Linked DNA regions of Homo sapiens: region 1 is linked to region 2. Evidence: fine-mapped expression QTL. Tissue or cell type: whole blood. Region 2 holds a variant in brackets; the other region holds the start of a gene. All regions are shown on one strand. Distances are from middle to middle.

What was found. PIP is the estimated chance that this variant, and not a neighbour inherited with it, causes the effect.
Region 1: PTAFR starts here. The variant in region 2 is fine-mapped to the expression of PTAFR in whole blood (TOPMed, PIP above 0.99).

What each region holds. Positions count from the first base shown.
Region 1 is chr1:28,175,087-28,177,768 of GRCh38, forward strand. It overlaps PTAFR (platelet activating factor receptor), which reads right to left and starts at 1,604. Exons shown (of 2, transcript NM_000952.5): 1 at 1,506-1,604.
Region 2 is chr1:28,113,930-28,116,611 of GRCh38, forward strand. No RefSeq gene overlaps it. Among named protein-coding and RNA genes, the nearest start is that of EYA3, 27 kb to the left of the region's middle. The variant G/C (reference allele first, on the strand shown) is at 1,513.

The DNA of each region.
Region 1 (2,682 bases), 61 kb after region 2:
TATTTTTAGTAGAGATGGGGTTTCACCATGTTCGCCAGGATGGTCTCCATCTCTTGACCTCGTGATCTACCCGCCTCGGCCTCCTAAAGTGCTGGGATTACAGACGTGAGCCACCATGCCCGGCCCACAGAGGTCAGTATTTTAACCTGCAATCTGCAAAGGAGGAAAGTGGAACTTCCGAACAACTCAAGGCCCCGGCTTGTCAGCAGGAGCTGAGATCGAAACCCCGGATGCCCACCTGAGGCCCAGGACCCAGTCATCTAAGGGGCTGAACTCTTTCTCCGGCGGTTTGTCAGCACCTAAAGATAGTGGTGTCTCTTTTGCTTCTCTAGCACTCCCCAACACACCTCCCACCCCTACCGCCTCCCCCAACACACACACCACCCCAAACACCTGGAACACAGCTGGGTATTCAGTCAGAGCTAAAGGAGAGCAGCCAGAGGTGTGGGGAGAGAGCCTGCTGGTTCTGTCATATTTCACAAGTGAGTGAGTGCACAGCCCCATGTCTGGACCTCCTGCAAGCAGAGGACGGTGGGTGCCAGCCTGGGCCCTGTCCCCAGCACCTGGGACCTGATAGGGGCTATTGTTTGTGGGCTTGGCCCTGTGTATAAGAACCTGGTTATTTTCAGCACCCCCTTCCCCACCCCGCAAACCTAGCATTTAGTGAGTTCCTAAGTACCCCGCCCTGTACCAGATCCTTTATATGACCCGACAATTCTGTGGGGGAGATGGGATTATCATTATTTGACAATTTAGAAAACTGCACAGAGATGGAGCGTAACTTGGCCAAGACCACACAGCTAGTCAAGTAGATGTCATTTGGCTCCCTGAGATCCAAGCTGCCCCCATCACCACCATCACCACCTCCCAGTAGGGTCTCTGGGGTCAGCACTGCCACCATCACCACCATCAACACCTCCCAGTGGGATCTCTGGGGTCAGCACTGCCCCAGCCTCAGAAAAGCCAAACTTGGGTGTTGGGTTCTCCAGGAATGTTTGGACACTAGAAGTTATTTCTAAACATGAGACTCTGGGCCTGAGAAAGGTGCCAGAAAAATCCCTTAAAAACAGAAGCAGCCGAGCACAGTGACTCAAGCCTGCAATCCCAGCACTTTGGGAGGCCGAGGCAGGCTGATTGCTTGAGCCCAGGAGTTAGAGACCAGTCTGGGCAACAAGGCAAGACCTCGTCTCCACAAAAAATACAAAAATTAGCCAGGCGTGGTAGAGCATGCCTCTAGTCCCAGATACTCGGGAGGCTGAAGTGGGAGGATCACCTGAGCCTGGCAGGTCCAGGCTGCAGCGAGCCATGATCGCGCCACTGCACTTCTGCCTGGACAACAGAGTGAGAGACCCTGTCTCAAAAAAAAAAAAAAAAAAAAAGAAAAGAAAAGAAATAGAAGCACCCATCTGCTTAGGTGCAGCCTGGGGGCATGACCTTGGTTTGCCTCCTGAGGACATTTTTATATGCCTCCCCCTTGCCCAGCAGGGGCCAGGATTCCCCCTTACCTGTAGCAGGGGCAGCGGCTTCAGCTGCAGTGACCGTGTGTCTCTGTCTGGGTCCTGGCCCCAGCCTCAGCCTCTATGCTGTCTGGCAATTGCAGAAGTGAAGAAACAGAGCGTATCACTACCAAGTCACCCCTGGGAGGAAATGCTGTGGCCCTAGGGCCTCTCAAGGGGTACCACAGGAACTTCCAAGCTGGGCCGCCAGGACCTGGGCACTGCACAGAGGCTTCTCAAAGAGCGAGGGATGGGGTGGGGTGTAGACAGCGCCCGAGGCCAGGAGCTAAGGTGAGAAAGAGGAAAAGCAAGAGAGAGAAAGCAAGTGCATGTACTCAAGAGAGCGAAAAAGGGAGCATGAGAGTGAGAAAGAGGAGGGAGGAGAGATGAGGGACCAGGAAAATCAAAGGAGAAAGGGAGGAGGCAGGAGGGAGTCGGGAAAAAAAATGAGAGGGCGGAGGAATGGATGGAGGGAGCGAGGCTCAGGGAAAAAGACAGATGTAAACACCGGGAGAGATGAGAGGAACAAGGAGATTCAGGGACAAAGACAAGGTAAGATCCAAGACAAAAGACGAGATGACAAGACACAGACAGCGAGCATGTGCCTGTGCACATTTGGGTCTGTGCGTCTCTGGATGGGGGTGAGAGAGAAAATAAAAGAAGGGGAGTGGAGGAAAGAGAATGCCCGCTGGGATATAAAGTGGAGGGAGAAGAGAGGAGCTCGGAAGAGCCACTGTGGTCAGGGGCATGACAGGGCAGGGCCTCCCTGGAGACCAAGAAACATTGAGCCCAGAAACCCCATGGGAACAGATCTGTGGGGGTGGAGGTGGAAGCTCCCTGAGACCGTGTTTTGTAGAGATAGGGTCTCCCTGTTTTGCCTAGGTTGGTCTCAAACTCCTGGGCTCAAGGGATCCTTCCGCCTCAGCTTCCCAAAGTGTTGGGATTACAGGCATGAGCCACTGAGCCTGGCCCTGTGTTTGTTTTTTTGTTCATGCGGTTGATTTCTGGAGAGAACTGGCTCCATTGTCCAGTAGAATGTTCTATATTCTGGACTTGGTTGATTGCTTCCTTGTGAGGTCCTTTAATCTATTCCTCTGTCTCCTGTATTTTCTGAAAACAGGTTTGATTAGATTCAAATTTGGACATACTTTCTTCTTTTTTTTTTTCACCCAGGCTGGTGTGGGTT
Region 2 (2,682 bases):
AGAATTAATTAAGCCCAAATGCTTATATACCTTTTTACATAAAGAATAATAAATCGGTGGGTGATGTGAACTGGAGTCTGAGCCGGCTATAAAGAGAACAACAACAACAAAAGAATGACAGGCCAGGCTTGGTGGCTCACACCTGTAATCCCAGCACTTTGGGAGGCCAAAGCTGGTGGATCACCTGAGGTCAAGAGTTCAAGACCAGCCTGGCCAACATGAGGAAATCCCGTCTCTACTAAAAATACAAAAATTAGCTGGGCTTGGTGGCGGGTGCCTGTAGTCTCAGCTCCTCGGGAGGCTGAGGCAGGAAAATTGCTTGAACCTGGGAGGCAGAGGTTGCAGTGAGCCAAGACTGTGCCACTGCACTCCAGCCTGGGCAACAGAGACTCTGTCTAAAAAAAAAAAAAAAGAATGACAAATTGTGGGGATGTGACAAGACAAAGAGGCTTGAGCTAAAGGCAGTTAGTTGTGGGACAATGACTAGGAAATACATGGGGTTATTTTAGTAGGTTCATTTGTACAGGCCCACTGCGCCATCAACCCTCAGTCTCCGGTGATGGGAATGTGCTTCTCTTCCTGGTACAGAGAGGGCATCTTTCTCATGGGAAATTTTATGAACTGTATTTAGGTAAAAAGATGGAATTCAGAGGGTTCTTCCTGCACCGGCTGTTTCTCAAGTGGCTTCAGCTCAAAATAATATGCCAGAGTGGCATATTTTGGGGTGGCATGTCCTGAACCCCTTCACTAACAATGAATTTTCTTCTTCAGAAAAACTTGGTAGTGGTCAGGCACAATGGCTCACGGTTGTAATCCCGGCACTTTGGTAGGCCGAGGCAGGCGGATCACCTGAGGTCAGGTGTTCAAGACCAGCCTGGCCAGCATGGTGAAACCCCATCTCTACTAAATAAAAATACAAAAATTAGCTGGGTGTGGTGGCACATGCCTGTTATCCCAGCTAGTTAGGAGGCCAAAGCAGGAGAATTGCTTGAACCTGGGAGGCAGACGTTGCAGTGAGTCAAGATGGTGCCACTGCACTCTAGCCTGGGCGACAGAGCAAGACTTTGTCTCAGAAAAAAAAAAAAAGAGAAAAGAAAAACTTGGTAGAGAAAAAAAAAATCTGTTAACCTAATTAAACAAGCCTACAGTTGTGTAAGCTGGATTGTCAGCTATCAGATGCTCTTATAATGTGGCTCACCTGAGCTTACAAATGAATATCATTATTTCAAGGAGTGTGTTGAACCATTATGTTAATATTTACACAGCAATTAATGTAATACACCATATTAATTGAATAAAGAACAAAACCCACCCCTCCAATAGATGCCTAAAAACATTCGACAAAATCTAACAGTTTAAAAGCATTCAACAAACTAGGGAGAGAAGGGGACTTTCTCAACCAGATAAAGGATATCTACAAAAACCCCCAGCTAACATCATACTTCCTTGTGAAAGACTGGACGCTTTCCCCGAAGATCCCTTGTTAAGATTAATGGTTGCATGCGGTGGTGG[G/C]GGGGAACAGGAAGTGACTGCTAGTGGGTATGGGGTTTCTTTTTGAGGTGGTGAAATTAGTGGTGATTGTTGCACAACTTTGTCAATGAATACACTAAAAATCAGTAAGGGTATGGTGGCTCACACCTGTAATCCTAGCACTTTGGTAGGCTGAGGCAGGAGGCTCACTGGAGCCCAGGAGTTCAAGACAAGCCTGGGCAACATAATGAGACTTCATCTCTACTGAAAAAAAAAAAAGAAAAATTAACTGGGCATAGTGGTGCACATCTGTAGTCCTGGCTACTCAGGAGGCTGAAGCGGGAGAATCTCTGGAGCCCAGGAGGTCGAGGCTTCAGTGAGCCATGATTGCACCACTGCACTCCAGCCTGGTCAACAGAGTGAGACCCTGTCTCAAAAAAACAAAACAACAACAACAAAAAAAGCCACTGAAGTGTACACTTTAAAAGATACCTGAATTAAATCTCAAAACTGCTTTTTTTTTTAGTAGGGGACAGGGTCTCACTCTGTTGCTCATACTGGAGTGCAGTGGCTCGATCTTGGCTCACTGCAACCTCCACCTGCGCAAGGATGACACAAACATTCATAAAGCATTCCATATTTAATTTTTAAAAAAAAATCAAAATTACTTAGTAAGGAAATATTCACTTAAGAAGTCCTAAATTAGATGGGATCCAGAGTTAATTAATTCAGCAGCTGGCTGGTGTCATCAAGGACCCAAGTTCTTTTTTTTTTGAGACAGACTCTCGCTCTGTCACCCAGGATGGAGTGCAGTGGCTTGATCTCGTCTCACTGCAACCTCCATCTCCCAGGTTCAAGTGATTCTCCTGCCTCAGCCTCCCGAGTAGCTGAGATTACAGGTCCACACCACCATGGCCAGCTAATTTTTGTATTTTTAGTAGAGATGGGGTTTCACCATGTTGGCCAGGCTGGTTTTGAGCTCCTGATCTCAGGTGATCTGCCTGCCTCAGCCTCCTAAACTGCTGGGATTACAGATGTGAGCCACTGTGCCCGGCCCAAGGGCCCAAGTTCTGTGCTCTTGCCACTCTGCTATCCTCAACTTGCTGGCTCATCTTCAGGCTGCCTTAGATCTAGCCACCCTGTCTGCTTTTTTTTAAGAGATATGGGTCTCGCTATGTTGCCCAAGCTGGTCTCAAACTCCTGGCCTTAAGT